Regions from separate parts of the Homo sapiens genome. Here region 2 is linked to region 1. A link means that fine-mapping ties the variant in region 1 to the expression of a gene that starts in the linked region. Tissue or cell type: whole blood. Region 1 holds a variant in brackets; the other region holds the start of a gene. All regions are shown on one strand. Distances are from middle to middle.

Region 1 (10,880 bases):
CTACAAAAACTCTACAGCTAAAATTACGTGTAATGAGAAAAGACTAAAATTGCTTTTCCCCTAAGACAGGGACAAGGCAAGGGTGTTTGCTCTCATCACTTTTTTCCAACAATGTATTGAAGGTTCTAGCCAACACAATAAGGTAAGAAAAATATATAAAAGGCATCTGGTTTTGAAAAGTAGTAAAATTATTTTTTCCCAGATGACATGATCACCTGTGTAGAAAATCATACAGAATTATTAAAGACATTGCCAGAACTAAAAAATGAGTGTAGCAATGTTGCAGGATATAAGGCCAATATAAAAATAAATCAGTTGAAGGGACAGAGGAGCCGTAAGAAAGAATTACCAATAGCCAAAGCTGAAAGAATCTGAGCAACAAAATAAATAAAACAGTACTGGATAATAACACAAACTATAAAACAAAAATACAGAAGTCTACACTAATATAAACATATGATTAAATAAATAAATAACTTGGAGAAAATAGAGAAATCTTCCTGGCAGAAAAGTTCCAAAAAAATTACATAGATATTCTAGTCTCAGGGAGGTGGAGCATAACTCCTCATTCTTTTAGTGAGGGCTGCACATAGTACTTCCTTCCAAAATGTTCAGTAAGAAAATGGGGAAAAGAATAACTTTACAGTGGAGAACTTGGCAAATGCTACATCAGCCAGGTTATCAACGTCAACATCGGCAATAAGACATGTTGATAATATGTACCCCTGATTTGACATAATAAAAAGAGCTCTTAACTAACCTCTGTGGTCTCCTTGCCAAAAACCCCTAATGCCAATCTAATCCTAAGAAAAAGGGTAGACATACACTAGTGACTTCAGAATTACCTGCAGAACTTTTTATTTATTTATTTTGAGGCAGTCTCGTTCTGTCGCCCAGGCTGGAGGGCAGTGGTGTGATCACAGCTCACTGCAGCCTTGAACTCCTGGGCTCAAGTGATCCTCCCCTGCCTCGACCTCCTAAGATCCTCCCCTGCCTCCACCTCCCCTGCCTCCACCTTGACCTCCTCAACATGCCCAGCACCACCACGTCCAGCTCATTTTTAATTTTTTTGTAGAGATGGGGTCTCGCTGTGTTGCCCAGGCTGGTCTCAAACTCCTGGGCTCAAGCAATCCTCCTGCTGTGGCCTCCCAAAGTGCTGGGATTACAGGCATGAGCCACCGCACCTGACCTTTGGGGTGCTTTTTAAAACTACTCCATTTCAAGCCCATTCCCAGAGATTCTGGTGCTCTTGATATGGAGCAGGGCCTAGAAATCTCCATTTTAGGAAGTTATCTGGGGGACTCATTTATATGCATCAGATTTAAAATCACAGATTTATCGTGGAGGAGATACAAAGAATGCCTTTTTTATACTACTCTTATCAATCCTGGACTTATGTGTATCGATTTTATAGAGCAACCAAAGATATCTTGACACAGTTGAAATTGGCATTTCTCTTGGTCCCAGAAAAAAAAATGAGTAATTTTATATAAATTTTTGTATTTTTTTTAAAGGAAAACAGCAGACAAACCCCAATTGAAGGACACTGTACAAAACACGTGGCCAGGTCTCCTCAAAACTTTCAAGGTTGGCTGGGCACGGTGGCTTATGCCTCTCCAAAAAAATAAAATATTAGCCAGGTGTAGTGGTGCATGCCTGTAGTTCTAGCTACTCAGGAGGCTGAGGCAGGAGGACTGCTTAAGCCCAGGAGGTTGAGGCTGCAGTGAGTCATAATCACACTACTGCACTCCAGTCTGGGAGAGTGAGTGAGACCGTCTCAAAACAAAACAAAACAAAACAAAACAAAAAACTCTCAAGGTCTTCAAAAACAAGGAACGTCTGAGAAATGGGCACAACCAAGAGGAGCCTAAAAAGACATGATGACTAAATGTAATATATTTGGAATGGGACCATGGAATAGAAAAAGGACATTGGGTAAAAGAAATACTAAGGAAATTTGAACAGAGTATGGCCTATAATAATTATCAACATTAGTTAATTGTGATGAACCATATGAATGTAAAATGCTAATAGTAAGAGAGACTAAATGTTGGGTATGAGAATTCTGCATTATCTTCACAACCTTTCTATAAATCCATAACTATTCTAAGATTAAAAGCTTATTTTTAAAAAATCAGAGCTGATTATGGAAAGTTTATTCATTTTATTGTATGTAAATTTCACTCAATAAAAATTATAATAAAGAAATCAGCTGGGTGTTGCGGTTCATGCCTGTAACTCCAGCACTGTGGGAGGCCAAGGCGAGCAGATCACAACGTCAGGAGTTCAAAGACCAGCCTGGCCAACATGGTAAAACTCTGTCTTTACTAAAAATACAAAAATTAGCTGGGCTTAGTGGCATGCACCTGTAGTCCCAGCTACTCGGGAGGCTGAGGCAGGAGAATTGCTTGAACTCAGGAGGCGGAGGTTGCAGTGAGCCGAGATCGCGCCACTGCACTCCAGCCTGGGCGACAGAGCCAGACTCTGTCTCAAAAATGAAATAAAATAAAAAAATAAATAAATAAATTATGTTTCTATATGTAGCAACAATCAGAAACTGAATATTTTAAACTACCATTAACATTAGCATAAGAAATATGAAATTTTTAGGGATAAATTTGTCAAAAGGTGTGCAAGACCTAGAAACTGAAAACTACAAAATACTGTTGCAAGAAATTGAAGAAGATCTAAATAAATGAAGAAATAAAACATATTAGTGGATTAAACTCAATACTGTTAAAATGTCATCAATTCTCTCAAAAAGACTTACAGATTCAAGGCAACCCTAAGCAAAACCCAAGCAGGCTTCTTTTTTGAGAGAAATGACATACTGATTCTAAAATTTTCATGAAAATGTAGAAGACCTAGAATATCCAAAATAACTCTGAAAAAGATGAACAAAGTTGGAAACATTATACTGCCAATTTCAAGACTTATCTAAAAGCTACAGTAATCGAGGCAGTCTGATAATGGTGGGTGTAAATAAATAATAAATGCAACAAAATACAGAGTCCAGAAAAAGACCCAAATTCATGGTTAGCTAATTTCCAACAAAGGTGCAAAAACAAGTCAATGAAAATAATATTTTTAAGAAGTGGTACCAGAATGATGTTACAGCCATATGCAAAAAAAACAAAAAACAAAAAAATCCTTGACCTTTACCTCACCCCATAAACAAAAATTAACTCTAAATTATCACAGACCTAAATCTAAGAACTACAACTTAAAAACTCCTGAAGAAAATATTAGTAACCTTGAGTTTGGTAGATTTAACGCAACAAAAAATGCACAAATCATAGGAGAAAAAAATAAGTTAGTGGATCAAAATTAAAACCTCTGCCCTTTGAAAGACACTGTAACTACAGGGCAACCATAGACTGGGAAAAAATATTTCCAAAGCATATATTTGAAAAAAGACTTGTACCTACAATTTTTTTTAAATTCTTACAACTTGAAAGTAAGACAATTCACTAACAGGCAAAAGGCCTGGGCGTGGTGCCTCACGCCTGTAATCCCAGCACTTCGGGAGGCCTAGGCGGGCGGATCACCTGAGATAAGGAGTTTGAGACCAGCATGGCCAAAATGGCAAAACCTCATTTCTACTAAAAATACAAAAATTAGCTGAGCGTGAGACAGGCGCCTGTAATCCCAGCTACTCGGGAGGCTGAGGCAGAATTGCTTGAACCTAGGAGGTGGAGGTTTCAGTGAGCCAAGATCGCACCACTGCACTCCAACCTGGGTGACAGAGCAAGATTCCATCTCAAAAAAGAAAAAAATAAAAATAAAAAATAAAATAGGCAAAAGATTTAAAGGGACCTTGGAACCAAAGAAGACACAGATGGCAGATAGGCACTTGAAAAGATGCCCAACATTAGTCATTAGAAAACTGCAAATTAAAAACCACAGTAAGATACCACTACTTATCCACTAAAATAGCTAAAATTAAAAAGGCTAACTATACTGAGTATTGGTGAAGATATGGAGCAACTGGAACTCTCATATACGTATTTGTGAGAATGTAAAATGAACAAGTTGAAACCACTTTGGAAAGCTGTTTGGAATTTGTTTTTAAAGTGATGCATATACCTAGCATATACCTAACCATTCTACTACTAAGAATTTACTTAAAAGGAATGAAAAGCTTAGGACCTTCATATGAAAACATAGCACATACAATTATGTAAGAGAGAGAGAGAGAGAGAGAAAGGCCTATGTCCTCACGAAGATTTATACACGAATGTTCATAATAGCTTTATTTCTAATAGCTGACAAACGGACACAACCCAAATATCTATCAAAAGGTAAACGGATAAATTGTGGTATATCCACAATAGAATAATCAGCAATAAGAATGTACACATACGATAAAATAGATTAATTGCAAGATAATAATGCTGAGTGAAAGAAGCCAGGAAAAAATGCATATTTATATAAAAATCTAGAAAATGCAAACTAGGCCGGGCACAGTGGCACACGCCTGTAATCCCAGCACTTTGGGAGGTCGAGGTGGGCGGATCACCTGAGGTCAGGAGTTTGAGACCAGCCTGACCAACATGGAGGAACCCTGCCTCTACTAAAAATACAGAATTTTTAGTGGGGTGTGGTAGCACATGCCTGTAATCCCAGCTACTCGGGAGGGTGAGGCAGGAAAATTACTTGAACCTGGGAGGTGGAGGTTGCAGTGAGCTGAGATAGTGCCACTGCATTCCAGCCTGGGCAACAAGAGTGAAACTCCATCTCATGGAAAAAAAAAAAAAAAAAAACAGAAAATGCAAACTAACCTAAGTGATATAAAGTAGATCAGTGGTTGCCCAGGAATGAGGCAGAAGGAGAGAGAGGATTACAAAGGAGCATGAGGAAACTTTTGAGGGTGGTGAATATTCATTTTCTTAATTATGGTAATGGTATTATGATTACATATATGTTAAAATTTCATCAGGCCAGGCATGGTGGCTCAAGCTTGTAATCCCAACACTTTGGGAGGCCAAGGAGGGCGGATCACCTGAGGTCGGGAGTTTGAGACCAGTCTGACCAACATGGTGAAACCCTGTCTCTACTAAAAGTACAAAATTAGCGGGCGTGGTGGCGCCCGCCTATAAGCCCAGCTACTTGGGAAGCTGAGGCAGGAGAATTGCTTGAACCCAGAAGGCGGAGGCTGCGGTGAGCTGAGATCGTGCCACTGCACTCCAGCCTGGGCAACAAGAGCGAAAGTCCGTCTCAAGAAAAAAAAGTCATCAAATTGTACACCTTAAATATGTGCAGTGTATTGCCTATAAATCAGTTATATTTTAATAAAGCTGTTCAAATAAGATATATACATACTATATATATACACACACATATATGTGTATATATAAATATCTTAAAAAATAATGAATTTAGCCAGGCATGGTGGTGCCTGCTTGTAATCCCAGATACTCAGGAGGCTAAGGTGGGATTACTTAAGCCCAGGAGTTCCAGACCAGCCTGAGCAACACAGTGAGACTCCATCTCAAATAATAAAATAAAATAAATGAACTTGTTAACTATTAATAAAATACAATGGAATAAAAATATATAAGGTATTAGAACCATGGCCTTTTGAAAACCACCCCATTGCATCTGCCATCCAATGGAGATATTAGAAGCAATTTTAAGCTTAAAAAAGTGGAGCCATAGGCAGTCCTCATACTACAAAGAATATCAAATAATTTAATCCAACCTCCTCATTTTATAGTAGAGAATATGAAGCCTAGAGAGGTTAAGTCAAATGCTGAAGGTCACACTAAAGTAGAGCCCAGACTATAATCAAACCTGTACAATTTTAGTTTAAGAGGTATTTTAGGATCAGTTACCATTCCATTATCATACTGATAAATTTTCAGTTCAACCA[T/C]ATTTACTGAGCATTTACTAGGCATTGTAGCAATATATGGCAACTCTTACCCTCAAGGAGCTTTCAGTGTAAATTTGTAAGACTTAGCATATATTCCAGGCATAAACATTTTCTTTTTTCATAAATTCTGCCTTTGTAGCTCCTAAGAAAACTAATGGTGTGTCTGTGATCCAATAAAACTTTGTTTCCAAAAACAGGCAGTGAGCCAAAGCAGGCCCTTGAGCCATAGTTTGCTCCCTGCTTTACACAAATCCCACATGTCCCATCCCTGCTGAAAACTCTTCAAGAACCCTCTTCTCTACTACATTTTGGATAAACCCCAAACTCCCCAAAAGCCCTTGCACCATCTCCCTTAGGATCCCTTGCCTTCTCTCCGTCTGTTCCTAGAGAAGGCCAAACTTTCTCCCCTGAGAACAGTTGGACATGCAGCTCCCTGTGCCTGGCATGCTTTTCACCCTCTCATCCTTCTCATCTCTTAGGTTTACCCTAATTCATCACCCCTTCAGAGCAGCTTCTCTCCTCTCTCCTCCCATCCCATGCTCTGCTCGCTTCATCCACTTTGATCTTCCTGGTCTATTAGAATTTGCAATTACTTGCCTTCTTACATGTTTGCCTCTCCCCAACTAGAAGATCAGCTCCAAGAGAGCAGGGATCTTGTCCTCAGTCCCTAGCAGAGTGTCTGAGAGATTAAAGGTATTGTACATTCAACAAATATTAACTGAGGACCTACTATGTGGCAGACACCAATCTGGGTGCTTGGGATGTATGAGAGAACAGACAGACAAAGATCTTTGCCCTATAGGGCTTACTATAGTCAGGGCAGACAGAGCCAAAAACAATTTAAAAAAATGGTATTTTAGAAGGAACTGAGTGTTGTAGTGTATAGGGAAACTCTCTAACGATGTTTTTCCTCTGCTCACACAACAATAATCATCAACACAGAAAAATTCTGTGACCGTGTGCGTGGAGTTTTCTCCCCCACACACCAAGCAGTGGACACCAGCTGTGTGCCCTCTAATTCAGTTCAGACACTGTCTATCTGGAGATGGTATCAGATCCCAAATCCCACAGGCTGAGGGCTCAGTCCCAAGACTGCCCTCCGTCACCCCAGTCCTTGCCCACCAAACCCATTGCAAGTCTGGGCCTCCAGAACTTCTGACGGACAGGCTCTTTGAGTTTGATTAACGTCAAGGCATAAATTTTTTAAACTAAAACCTAAAATATTAATGGAACAAGAATCAAAGTATGCTCCCAATGGTTTAAACTGCCTTTTTTTTTTTAAATGCATTCTCAATTTACACAGAGTTTGTCTGGCTTGGTTATTTTTGTAATTATGCGTGTAATGAAAAAAAATCAATCTCATATAACCAGTTTTTCCAAATAAACATTTAAAGAATGAAAGAATGCAAACTGGCAGCCTGTGAGCTGTCTGCCCACAGATACTATTTGGCCCACACAGTGTTTTTAAAAATCTCAATTTGTTGTTAACCTTTAAAATAGGATAGGCATTGTGGCTCATGCCTGTACCCACAACACTTTGGAAGGCCGAAGACAGAAAGACTGCTTGAAGCTAGGAGTTCAAGATCAGCCTGGGAAACATAGCAAGACCCCATCTCTACGAGAATTTTTTTTTTTTTTTTAATTAGCCAAGCATGGTGGTGCATGCCTGTAGACCTAGCTACTTCAGAGGCTGAGACAGGAGGATCACTTGAGCCAAGAAGTTTGAGGCTGCATTTAAGTGTGCACTATGATAACACCATGCACTCCAGTCTGGGAGAGAGAGTGAGACCTTGTCTCTCAAATAAATAAATAAAAACCATTAAAAATGGGTAGACCTAGGCAGGGCACAGTGGCTCACGCCTGTAATCCCAGCACTAAGGGAGGCTGAGGCAAGGAGGACTGCTTGACACCAGGAGTTTGAGACCAGCCTGGGCAACACAGAGATCCTGTCTCTACAAAATATTAAAAAAAATAAAAATTAGCTAGGCATGGTGGCTCACGCCTGTGATCCCAGCACTCTGGGAGGCTGAGGAGGGTAGATCACGAGCTCAGGAGTTCGAGACCAGCCTGACCAACATTGTGAAACCCCATCTCTACTAAAAACACAAAAAAATTAGCTGGGCGTGATGGCACGCGCCTGTAATCCCAGCTATTCAAGGAGGCTAACACAGGAGAATCACTTTAACCCAGGAGGCAGAGGTTGCAGTGAGCCAAGATTGCTCCACTGCACTCTAGCCTGAGAAACAGAGTGAGACTCCATCTCAAAAAATAATAATAATAAAAATAAAAATTAGCTGGGCATGGTGGCACACACCTGTAGTCCTAGCCACTTGGAAGGCTGAGGCAGAAGGATCGTTTGATCCCAGGAGTTAAAAGTTGCATTGAGTTATGATCACACCACTATACTCCCACCTGGGTGACAGAGTGAGACCCTGCCTTAAAAAAAAAAAATTTTATATATATATATATATATATATATATATATATATATATATATTTATATTTATTTATTAAGGTCCATATATATATATATATGGGTAGACCTTACATTAAAATCTGGGCATTGAGGCCGGGCACAGTGGCTCACGCCTGTAATCCCAGCACTCTGGGAGGCCGAGATGGGCGGATCATCCGAGGTCAGGAGTTCCAGATAAGCCCGGCCAACATGGTGAAACCCCGTCTCTACTAAAAATACAAAAATTAGCCAGACATGGAGGCACACGCCTGTAATTCCAGCTACTCAGGGAGGCTGAAGCAGGAGAATCGCTAGAACCCGGGAGGCAGAGGCTACAGTGAGCCAAGATTGCGCCACTGCACTCCAGCCTGGGTGACAGAGCGACCGGTTTCCATCTCAAAAAAAAAAAAAAAAAAAAATCTGGGCATCAGGCTGGGTATGGTGGCTAACGACTACAATCTCAACACTTTGGGAGGCCCAAGGCAGGAGGATTACCTGAGGGCAAGAGTTTGAGACCAGTCTGGGAAACATAGGGAGACCCCATCTCTAGAAAAAATAAAACATTAGCCGAGCATGGTGGTGTACCTGTGGTCTCAACTACTTGGGAGGGTAAGGCAGAAGGATCACTTACGCCTGGGAGGTCAAGGCTGCAGTGAGCTGTGATCACGCCATAGCACTCCAGCATGGGCAACAGAGTGAGGGGAGCAGGGCAGGGCAGAAAATATGGGCATCCAGATTTTATTGAAATATCAGAAGATCTGACACAACTAGACATATATCCTTCATAGCAAAAACTGAGTGCCTACTATTTGCCAGTCACTCATTAGGCTCTTGGGAAATTTAAACAAATAAGAAATAGTTACTGTTTTTCAAGAACTTCACATTTTATTATTAGAAGCAAGCATATAAATAAATCATTGCAATATGTTATGATCTTACTATGTGCTGGGTACTATGTGATAGGTCATACAATAAAAATGGCAACAGGATAAAATGGAATCACAAGGAAAAGGGTGATGATCAATTCTCTTAACAGTAAAGTAGATATCCAGGTGCAGTGGCTCACGCCTGTAATCCCAACACTTTGGGAGGCTGAGGTGGGAGGATGACTTGAGCCCAGGGGTTTGAGAACAGCCTGGGCAAAAGAGTAAGGCTATCTATTAAAATAAAGAAAATAGTAAAGAAGACTTTGGGAAGGCTTCATAAAAGTAGGCAGCACTCAAGCTACGTTTTTAAACAGTAAGTTTTTGTCAAGTGAATAAGGCAGAGAGAAGGACATTTCAGAGGCGGCAGCAGCAGCACGTTCAAGATTACAGGGTCACACAGTAGACACAGATGTAAGATAAGGCCTCAGGTAGTTTGGAAAGAAACAATATTCCTTGAGAAGCCAACTGAAGCCAGATCATGAAGGACTCTTGTTTTCCAAGCCAACGAATATGGGTTTTAACCTACACATCAATGTTTTTCCCACAGTGCCCCTAAGAAGACTGCTCATGGTTCAACTCAAGTGAGAGGAGAAAAAAAAAAAGAAAGAATATGCCAAAGGAACCACCACCACCCACCATCCAATTACTGACTCAACTAGAGGAGCTCTACTTTTGTCTACTTTATGTAGTAAAGTTCTCTTTTAAAATCTCTTTGGGCACAAAAATTCTACTGTTATAAACAAAATTTTTTATTAAAAAAAAAGCTTAAACAGGAGCCATTAAAAGATTTTTAGCAAGAAATTAAATGTTAAGATTAGCATTTTGGAAACATCTTTCTCTTAACAGCGCCAAGGATGGAATACAGAAGTATGAGACCCAAAGGAGATGAAAATACTCAGTGTTTAGTTGCAACAACTGATGCAATAAATAATTAATGAAATCTGGTGATGAGAGATATTCAAATCTTACTGATATCTACTTTATTCCAAGCAGCCTGCTATGTCCTAGGTTTAGGATAAAGAAGATAAGTTCAATAGTTATTTCAATATAAAGTAATCATGACTGATTAAAACAGGAAGGTAAAGAAGAAAAAGGAATGAATCTTGGTAGGTGATTTGAATAAACACATGGATAGCTGTGGTTAAAACTTGGAATACAATCATAACACTTCACCTTGAATAAGCTAAGCATAAACCAGGCCAAAAAAAAAAAAAGATATGTTTTAAGGAGGTATAATCTAGAAAAAACAAAGGGCTACACTTGTGATTATACTTCACGAGCAAGCGTCTCAGAGGATTTGCTAGAGGTATACACAAAATCAGAACCATCCTTGAAAGCCATTTTAAACAATAAAAGACCTTAACTATTAATATACTAAAGTGAATCTCAAAGGTTTCCACCTGAGGTTAAAGCTTGGCACCTTTCCCTTGGCAATTCTGTTTGAGATCCAGGTTCCCAAATGAAAGCATGGAATCAATGCAGGCAAGAACGTAAAACAATATTTAGGCCACTAGGCCTATACAATTGCTTTAGCATATAGCCAATAAGTTTCTCATTTGTCCATTACTCTTAGGTAAGTATGTAATAAGTTGCACAATTCTACTTGTGGCATTTAATTAACAATTTA
Region 2 (10,880 bases), 20 kb after region 1:
TCAGTTTTTTTCCTAGTTGCAAAATCTAACAAATTTCATATAGCAATAAAATTTTTTTTATTTTTTTCTTCCTTTTTCACATCACCCGCAATGCCAGACAAGTAGTCCAATTTAGAAATAGGTTACAGTTAGTGATCCTACTCATGCTTCTTATATTAGAATAGGAATCGCTGAAGCTTCCCACAAACTGAAGCCATGTCTTACTCATCTTTGTATCTCTAATGCCCACTATGTGGCATATATATATATGTGCTCAAAAACGTTAAATACATAAACTCTCAAAAATTATTTACTGAGCTTTACCATAAAAGTTTATGATACAAATATTAGCCTATCAGTAATGATGTGAAGTTAGCATTTGAAAAAATAATGTCTGGCAGACTAAATAAGCTACACTGCATTTCCTTTTAGGAATGGTCAGTACTGGAAAGATTTTAGACCTAGCAGTATTGATCTCCAATTATATGCACCTTAACTTTTCTTCAGCAACTCACTTCTATGGCCATATCAGATAGCTTTTCTTTTCTTTTTTTTCTTTTTTTTTATTTTTTTTGAGATGGAGTTTCGCTCTTGTTGCCCAGGCTGGAGTGCAATGGCCCGATCTCAGCTCACTGCAACTTCCACCTCCCGGGCTCAAGCAATTCTCCTGTCTCAGCCTCCCGAGTAGCTGGGATTACAGGCATGGGCCACCACACCCAGCTAATTTTGCATTTTTAGTAGAGACAGGGTTTCACCGTGTTGGTCAGACTGGTCTCGAACTCCCGACCTCAGGTGATCCACCCGCCTCAGCCTCCCAAAGTGGTAGGATTATAGGCATAAGCCACGGCGCCCAGCCTCAGATAGCTTTTCCTAAACCAGATCTACTTCACTTCTAAAATCTTAAACTTCAATGTGACAGTTTCAGACAAAATCTCCAACCCTTCCAATTATCTCATTCCTTTACTCCATTACTTTTCCACCTAGATAGCATTCCCAATCCTTTGACGGTTCTTTCCTTTTCTCTCCAGGCTATCAGCTACCGCCCTCTCCTCCCCTTCCTTATATATCCTCAATCTAGTGGCCAATCCCATCAACACAAAGTGAGGCACTCTAATCCCTCTCATCACTTTGCCATTCAGGCACCAAATCCTGCATGTGTTTAACCCTTCTGAATGTCCATAATGAATATTCTTTTTTTCTTTTTTGAGACCAGGTTATGAGACTGGCTAATTTTTGTATTTGGGGTAGAGACAGAGTTTTCATCATGTTTCCCAGACTGATCTCAAACTGCTGGGCTCAAGTGATCTGCCTGACTTGGCCTCCCAAAGTGCTTGGATTACAGGCATGAGCCACCACACCTGGCCCCATTTTCTACTTAAGTTACTCAGAGTCCATTTGTAGACTCCGTATTTCCACCCCAGATATTGCTCCTAAACCCTAGACTTCAAAAATAAGACTGCTTTAATGAGCATATCCCTCTTACCTTTATTAGTAGTCACTCCTCACCCCCAGGATAAAGTTCAATTTCCTTAATGTAGCAAATGAGGCCCTTGGAAATCTAATTTAGTGCACTGCCTATTACAGATGACTAATGGAGCAACAAGCCTAACTCAAAATAGCCCTCTCCATTACCATATTTTTGCTGTACAACCCTTTGCCATTGCTAATTGAACCATGGGTAGACAAAACTGGGTCACAAAGGCTTTCTCTCTAGGGGATTCTGAAACCTGACAGGAGAGATCAAAGACTGGGAATTATGGAAGATAGGCCAGCACTCTAAAGCTGTAGCTCCCAACCAGGAGTAATTTTGCCTCCTATGAGACATTTGGCAATGTCTGGAGACATTAAACATCCTACAATGCACAGAACAGCCTTCACAACAAAGAACTATCTATTTCAAAATGCCAATGATGCCAAGGTTAAAAAACCCTGCTGCTACTTTAAGAGGAAGGTCCAAGAACTCTTCCAATGAGATTCTAGGAGCTAGCTGGTTCCTGTTCTTTCCTTGATTTGGTTGTTCAGATATTCTTCTGCTTTCTGTTACATTTCCCTTTTTACTTAAATAGATCAGCTTTCTGATGTTTGCAGGCAAAACAACTTTACTAGCACAGAACCCTAGCTCAATCATACGACACACACCTGTACACTTTAAGCTGGTTTCTCAATCTCGGAACTACTGACATTTGGGCAAATAATTATTTGTTGTGAGGGAATATGCTGTGCAATGTAGAACGTCTAGCAGCATCCCTGGCCTCTATTCACTAGATGGCAGTAGTATTACCCTCCCCTCCAAGTCTTGACAATTAAAAATATCTCCAGACACTGCCAAATGTCACCTCAAGACAAACTGACCCTGGTTGACAACTGCTGCTTTAAACTATACGATGACTCCACCGAGGTGAGGTGAATGTCTGCCCAGTCAACTCCCACTCCCAGGAAACCTTGTGCAGAGCACAGTATGCCCTTAGCCTAAGGGAGCGAAGGAGAAGAGAGTGTCTGTATCCAAAACTTCCCTACCCCTTTTCAGGTCCTGGCTTAATTAAATATACGTCCACTTTGCCGATTTGCAAGCGCCTGTTCACAGGTGTGTACATGTGTATACACATACACATACACACACACACACACACACTAATGTCTTGAGCTGAAAGGTAGCTTCTGCTTTTATTTCCTTTCTCACATTTGTTACGACTTCTCTTTAGAAGTTTCCATTCCCATGTGAAAAACTACTCTCCTAGAAAACCCTCCCAAAATACATTCAGTCCTATTACAGTTTGAAAAATCGGGGCAGTTTCTCCTTCAAAAGCTTTTCCTGTTTCACTCTGGAAAAATGTCACTACTCTAAGCTCCCCCATCCCACCAACACACCTCCTTGTCCTCATTTCAGATTCTTCAAGTAGATAAACTTTTTATTAACAACTGGAGAGATGTTTGGAATACAAACTAACAATTAGGCAAGGAACAAGTATATAGATTTACAGTTCTCAAATAGTTTAGCATTGAGTTAAAGAATCTGTTAATCTCTTAAGAACAATTCCTCTTCCATACTTTCCCAACATACCAGCTTCTCAAGTCCCTTCATCCAGGCAAAGATGGTTTTAATCTTGCAACTGCACTATATTTCAACCTCAAGGCTAAAAATGAGAGCTCTTTCTCATGTTGGTTCACAGTCTTCCTCCTTACTGGCAGAACTCCTCCCCCCATACAATAACTGGGTTATTTCCTTACCGGAAGACCCCTCATATAAACCCCTGTAAGAACTAGGTCATTTTCCTAGTTATTTTCCAGGATCCAAAGGCACCACATTTATTTAATGATTCAATTACTCACTGCCTCCTAAAGCCACAGGGAAACTGGTCATTCCCAAATCTATAAGAATATTGGCAGTAGTCTTGCCTCAGTAAAAAAAAGCAATGTAAGAGAAAGTAAGCTCATTCATGTTATGTATCCACATTCATGCAACAAATAGTTGTTGAGTACCTACTTTATGCCAGCCTCAAGACAAAAATCCCTGCTCTCATAGAGTCTACATTTAAGTGGAGAAAGACAAAAATACATAAAGAAATAAATATGTACGACAGACAAGCATGAGTGCTATGGAGAAAAATAATGCAAGCAAGAGGACTGGCAATATGGGGGCTCACAATTTTAAACTCTGTGGTCAGGAAAGGTCACCTTTGAGAAGGTGCAATGGGTTGCATACACAGGCCTCACATGATGTCTAGTATTAGAAACTAGTATGTTCAACTATTTCCTGGTAAACTATATTCTACTGTATCCCAGACCACTAGGTCAATGTAGTGACATCTTCATTACTGGATATTCTATAAAATTAAACTTGAACCAGGTAATTTCAAAAGTTCATTCCTTCCTGAGTAACTATAATTTATCACAACACCTGCCTTCTTTTGTCAATTACGAGCTGCCTTTAGATTTCTGAATAACTATTTTTCTTAGGAGATGACAGCAATTAGCAGTAAGATTAACTTATTAACCAAAAATAAAAATTTGATACTCTTTAGTCACCTGAGTTAAGGATGTTTTGAAATATGAAATAACTGAAAACTCAAGTGTCCCAAAAACTCATCTCTGAAAAAAAAAAAAATCCTCATCACACTATTTATCACACAGCTATTACAAATCATACAGATTTAGAAACTAACCCTAAGGGCCAGGCACGGTGGCTCACACCTGTAATCCCAGCACTTTGGGAGGCCAAGGCAGGCGGATCACCTGAGGTTGGGAGTTTGAGACCAGCCTAACCACCATGGAAAAACCCTGTCTCTACTAAAAATACAAAATTAGCCAGGCGTGGTGGCGCATGCCTGTAATCCCAGCTACTCGGGAGGCTGAGGCAGGAGAACTGATTGAAGCCAGGAGGCAGAGGCTGCCGTGAGCCGAGATCATGCCATTGCACTCCAGTCTGGGAAACAGAGTGAGACTCTGTCTCAAAAAAAAAAAAAAAAAAAAAAAAAATATATATATATATATATATATATAAAATAAAATAAAAACTAGCCCTAAAGACTCAATTTTCAATATATGGGTGTTTTCTATCTCATGCAGTAAGCCATTACATCTTTGTTCTTAATTTTTTTTATTATACTTTGGTATGCATGCTCTTAATTTTTAAGAGCCCCTCTCAAATGGAGTTCTATAAAAGAATTAAACTCTAATGCACTATCTGTTGATTGAATTAACTTTTCTTCCAAGCATCTAGAGTGGTACTAGCTATGCAGCATCATCCTTGGACGAGTGAGAAAGTAGGCATTCAAATCATTTTCTGCAGATCTGTATTTTCTTGTGGAGCTGGGTATGAGAAAGGCGGGAGGACATAAATTAAAAATAGATAAAACCTTCCAAAATAAGATAGTTCAAGATTGGGCCATATATATAATTTTAAAAGAAACTTTTCAATGAGTGATAACATTAAGAAATACATATTCATGCAGGGCGTGGGGGCTCACACCTGTAATCCCAGCACTCTGGGAGGCCGAGGACCGCGGATCACCTGAGGTTGGGAGTTCAAGACCAGCCTGGCCTGGTGAAACCCAGTCTCTACTAAAAAAATACTACATATATACACATATATATGTGTAGTGTATACACATATATATGTAGTACACATATATATGTATGTGTATATATGTGTATATATGTATATGTATATATGTACATATGTATATATATGTACACACACACACACACGCTGCTATACTTTGCTACTTTTAAGAAAAGTGCTATATCTTATTCAGTATTATAAGTGAGGAAAATATTTGCTGAATCACAGAAGTAGAATTCTGTTCCCAATATATAACCTGTGGTATAAGACAATCTGGGGAATCAAGAATTATGTTTACTATACAAGTCTATAATCATACCCGTGTCTTCCCAAAATTAGTTAAAATTAACTTACAAATCGAACAGAAAGGGATCCTAACCAAGGGCTTTGAGTTCGCTGGTAACAACTTGGAACAAGAGCCTACATTTAGCCTGTGTCTTGAGACAAACACGGAGAAGCCAAGAGCAGTAACAAACTGCCAGCCTTACTGAGTCATGTTTCTGACTAAAACCGCGTTATGAAATGGAGAGAATGACATGTCTTGGGTTTAATCACCACAGATGTTAACTCCCTGAATTTTAGAGTTGCAGAGGAAAAAGAGCAAAAACCAAAAAAAAAAAATGTTCAGTAATAATGATGTGGGTCTCATAGGACTCCAGAAAGAACCTGCCAAAGCTGCGAACTCTGCTTATTTACCTAAAACAAATCCTAACTGTGCAAACAGGCACACCCTCTGATGCCACAGAGCGGGAACGCCAAGGTGGGAGGAATTCAGAACAATCACAAGGTTAACGTTCCACTGAGAACACAGCCTCCACTGAGCGTCCACACTGCGCCAGAAGCCCTCGGTTAACGGAACCGCTCTGCTCCAAGGGGAAGGAGCACCGAACTCGAGTTAGAGCCCAGCACATTAACCAGGCACTTGGGTGACGCCAGGCCACCTCCAGCCTCCGCTCAGTACCGCACAGAGCCGAGCCGGGACGCCCCCAGACGCCGCGCCGGGAGCGATCCCAGCCCGCCGCGCTCCGCACTCCGGGCTCCTCCGCGCGCCCACCCTGGGAGAAGACGCGTCAGGGGCCGATTCGTGAGGCCAGCCCCCGGCGCCGCCGGCGACAAGAGATCCGGGGCCGCGACCTCTGCCCCGGCCAGAGCGGGGAAGTCCGAAGGTCGCCTCCCGCACAGCCGCCAGGCGCCGCCGCCCCCGAAGCCGCAGGCTGACTCCAGTGCGGGCTGGGGTGGAGGCCGACTGGCGCCGACACCGAGGCGCTCACTGACCTGGAGAGGTGCTTCAAGATTTGTTTCTTGATGATCCCGGCCATGGTACCGAGGCTGGAGACGCCGCGGTCTCGTCCTGTTGCTCACTGCCTCCTCTCTTCGTGGCCGTCTCCTCTCTGTCCCGGCTAGCCCGGCCGGCGGAGAGGCGCTGATCGCTCACGACCGGGAGAGACCCAAGGCCCCGGCCAAGGCCACAGCCGCCGCCGAGAACCCGGAGCATCACGCTCAGGCCGCCACGGCCGCCGCGGGCGCCATCTTGGCTGCAGCATCACCTAAGAGACTCGGTGGAGGGCGGGGGCGGGGCGGCTCCAGGCGGGGCCGGCACGAGGCGGGGCGGGGCCAACGCCGGCTCTGGGCGGGCTCTGGGCGGGCTCTGGCTGGGCTCTGGCTGGGCTCTGGGCGGGGGCGGGAGGTTTGTGGCATTGGCGCCAGGGTTCTTAGCCCTCGCGACACAGGGCCCTTGACTCTCAATACACCATCCTTCTTGGCCTTAATCCTCCCTCCTTCCCTCTGCTGGTGTTCCCGCCTCCATCGCTGACCCGTCGCTGATTTTTACTTCCACGTCCTACTTCCCTTATTCATTTCCTCAGAATGTTTTTTATTTTTTTGCTTGTTTGTTTTTTTTTTTGAGACAAGTCTTGCTCTGTCACACAGGCTGGAGTCCAGTGGTACGATCTCGGCTCATTGCAACCTCCACCTCCAGGGTTCAAGCGATTCTCCTGCTTCAGCCTCCTGAGTAGCTGGGATTACAGGTGCGCACCACCACGGCCGGCTAATTTTTGTATTATTAGAGACGAGGTTTCACCATATTGGCCAGTAGGTCTCGAACTTCTCACCTCGTGATCCACCCTCCTAGCCTCCCAAAGTGCTGACATTACAGGCGTGAGCCACTGCACCCGGCCTCCTTAGAATGTTTTAAGAATCGGCCATTAACTCCTGTGCTTGCTTTGCTCTCTTGACCTACTCACCTTTCTTCATATTCTTCCTTAGGTTTTTGTTTTTGGTGTTTTTTTTTTTTCTTTTGTTAAGGTGTCCTGCCTTTCCCTTACCTAAATGTGGCAATTTAATGTTTCCTTTGGTTATTGCTATTCTAAGGGAAGTAAAGGTTGACAATGGTTCCTAGTAGTCTAGGACCTAGGAATTAGAAGGTGTATAATTCAAGTCCTGGCTCTGGTATTTTCTAGCTGTGTTATCCTGGGGAAAATAATTTCTTTACTATTAGTTTCATTTTAATCATCTGTGAAATAGATTAATCATCAGCCTTACCCACTTCACTAGGTTGAACCTAAAGGTGTAAATATCATATGAAAAGTTCTGTAAGGAAGGAAGGAAATTGTTGAACTAGGGAAAACTGTTACAATTCTACACCTCCACCCCACCCAATCCCAAACAGAGCTAACATTTTCAGAGATTAAAATGACGACTTCTGTCATCCCAGCACTTTGGGAGGCCGAGGCAGGCAGATCACTTGAGGTCAGGAGTTCAAGACCAGCCTGACCAACATGGTGAAACTCTGTGTCTACAAAAAAAAAATACAAAAATTAGCTGGGCATAGTGGCGGGCGCCTGTAATCCCAGCTACTCAGGAGGCTGAGGCAGGAGAATTGCTTGAACCCGGGAGGCAAATGTTGCAGTGAGCTGAGATCAAGCCACTGCACTCCAGCCTGGGCGACAGAGCAAGACTGTCTCAAAAAAAAAAAAAATTACTCAGTGTTAAGTCAAGTTTAGCCTAACACTGCCTCCTTACGTAATTGAGTTCAGCCTAAAGGTTTTTCTGTACATCATGAACTTATGAAAATAAGCAGAGGTATAAACCGACCATAGCCCACACCTGTGCCAATCACTGAGTTTTGGCCAGATGTAGCCAACTGTTCAGACTGTGTTCAAATAAGGCAAACACTGAGCTGTAAGCAATCCAGTTGTTTCTGTACCTCACTTCCATTTTCTAGACCTCACTTTCCTTTTGCTGGCCAGAAATCTGCTCCCAGCATGTGGCTGTGCTGGAGTCTCTCTGAATCTGCTGTGATTATGGGGGCTGCCAGACTCAGGAATCGTTCATTGTTAAACTCCTTTAAATTTAATTTGGCTGAAGTTTTTCTTTTAACACTAGTGATATCTAAAACAGGAAAAGAAATTGTACCACCCCTGAGGGATGTATTAGCAAGATGTGTGGTTGTACATCTTGGGAGTTGGGTGGGAAGTAGTTTACACATAGTCCAATAAGCTGGCCCTTTTTGAAGAATGGAAAGGATAGACGTGTAAGTTGACTACACTCAACATTTCATTTTATTTTTATTTTATTTTTGAGACAGTCTTACTCCATCGCTCAGGCTGGAATGCAGCAGCACGATCTTGGCTCGCTGCGACCTCCGCCTCCCAGGTTCAATCAGTTCTCCTGCCTCAGCCTCCCAAGTAGCTGGGATTACCAGGCTAATTTTTGTATTTTTAGTAGAGACGGAGTTTCACCATGTTGGCCAGGCTGGTCTCGAACTCCTGACCTCACGTGATCCGCCCGCCTCAGCCTTCCAAAGTGTTGGGATTACAGGCATCAGCCACCACACCCAGCTGACTACACTCAACATTTATCATAGATTATAAACCAGGCACTATTCAAGTATCCTGGGGTTGCCTAAATGAAAACAAAAATCTCTGTTCCTGCCATCAGAGTTAACGGCCTGGCTTGGAAGGCAGACTCATGTTACTTACACCTTCAGCTCTGTTAGTAGACTCTGGTTCAAATGCTGGCCACTTTATAACTGTGTAAACTTCAGCAAATTAATCTTTCTCAGCTTCAGTGATCTCATGTGTTAAGAGATATTATTATTAGTAGCTACTGTTAACCTGCCTTATAGCAAACTCAATAAAGGCTAGGTATTATTAATTACTTTACCAAAAACAAGCAAAGTGCTATAAGAACACAGAGGAAGGAGTAATTCATTTGGGGACAGACTTATAGTAGAGGTATTATTTCAAAGATATGAATAAATCCATTTAATTTTTTTAAAAAAATGGACCCTGAAATCAAAGACTTGGATTTAAAACTGAAGCAGGAGGGTTCCCTGACTTCACTCGCAGGACTAACACTAATGCACGAAGTACACAGGGGGGTGGCTCATCTGCTTGGCTACCGAGCACATGCAAACCCCTAATAGGACAGGGAGCACACAGATGGGCAAGTGCAGAAGCCGGAGCAAGGACTTTTGAACTCTGGCCCCATGGTAGCGTCTAGGGGTGGGTAACTGCAACTCCTGAAGCCCAAGTGGGCATGCGTTACACTGCACTCTTTTAGCTTTGTTGTCCACAGATAGCTTAAGTGTTAACTAGCTCAGTGCCCTCTTAGTATCCAGGTCATTGTCAGGCATCCAGAAAGAGGTCACACAGGGACTTGAAGGACGGTGAATGTGGGGTTTTATTGAGTGGTAGAGGTGGCTCTCAACAGGATGGATGGGAAGCTGGAAAGGGGATGGAGTGGGAAGATGATCTTCCCCTGGAATTTGGCCATCCAGTGGCCAAACTCTTCTCAGCGTTCAGTCACTACTTCTCTTGTCTCTGCTGCACTGGTCTGCCATTCTTCTGCTCATCTGTTCATCTCCTTGTCTGCTCATCTGCTTGTGGAGCCTGGGGTTTGGGCTTTCTATGGATACAAGATAGGGTGCTGTGGCAGGCCAAAAGGCAACTTTTGAGCACAAAAACAGAAATGCCTGTTCCCATTTAGGACGGTGGGTTTCCAGGCTTGAGAGTAGGGCATTTGCCAGGGAACCACTCTGTTCTACCCAGTATTTCCCTGTCTCCTGTCCATATCAAAACTGAACTCTGCAGATATTTAGCTATGCTGGTTGTGGTAGGGTGACCCCCAAATTGGGGTTCAGGCTGGGAGGCTACTTGGGTTCCTGCCTTCTGCAGGAAAGAATTCAAGACCAAGCTGACAAGAGTAAAGTGAAACCAAGTTTGTTAAGAAAGTAAAGAAATAAAAGGATAGCTACGCCATAAGCAGAGTAGCAGCATGGGCTGCCCAACTATACTTATGGTTATTTCTTGATTATATGCTAAACAAAGGGTACATATTCATGAGTTTTCTAGTAAGGGTGCAGGGAGTTCCTGGAACTGAGAGTTCCTCCCCCTTTCAGATCATATAGGGTAATTTCTCCATGTTACCATGGCATTTGTAAACTGTCATGGCCCTGATGGGAGTTTCCTTTAGTATGCAAATATATTATAATTAGTGTTTAATGAGCAGTGAGGATGACCAGAGGTTGCTTTCATGACCATCTTGGTTTTGATGGGTTTTGGCCAGCTTCTTTACCTCATCCTGTTTTATCAGTGACAAAGGAGAAAGTCAAAATATTTTACCCCAAAACATGTTTCTTTGCCATATTTTGAAATGGTCCTGCAAAGCCATTCTTTGTGGGGGAAAATTTGCATCTATAAAGAATCTCTATTAACATAGTTAGGTTTTTTTCTTACAGGCCCTCTCAATCCTGAAGAGATTAACTAAGAGTCTATCACCTTTTAAAGGTCTGAATACGAAACATTTGTCATCTATTGTCTCTAAGGGCAGCCACATT

Evidence for each region. PIP is the estimated chance that this variant, and not a neighbour inherited with it, causes the effect.
Region 2: it holds the start of BLTP3B, and the variant in region 1 is fine-mapped to the expression of BLTP3B in whole blood (INTERVAL, PIP above 0.99). The same link has a PIP of 0.9 or more in visceral fat.

The regions. Positions count from the first base shown.
Region 1 is chr12:100,116,611-100,127,490 of GRCh38, forward strand. All of the region lies in intron 1 of BLTP3B (bridge-like lipid transfer protein family member 3B), which reads right to left. Among named protein-coding and RNA genes, the nearest start is that of BLTP3B, 21 kb to the right of the region's middle. The variant T/C (reference allele first, on the strand shown) is at 5,873.
Region 2 is chr12:100,136,276-100,147,155 of GRCh38, forward strand. It overlaps BLTP3B (bridge-like lipid transfer protein family member 3B), which reads right to left and starts at 6,599. Exons shown (of 21, transcript NM_015054.2): 1 at 6,317-6,599. The coding sequence starts at 6,360. BLTP3B-DT (BLTP3B divergent transcript) reads left to right here and starts at 6,780. Exons shown (of 2, transcript NR_186018.1): 1 at 6,780-7,068; 2 at 8,265-8,396. RefSeq lists silencers at 2,476-2,625, 6,014-6,263, 6,584-6,763 and enhancers at 6,144-6,907, 10,320-10,880.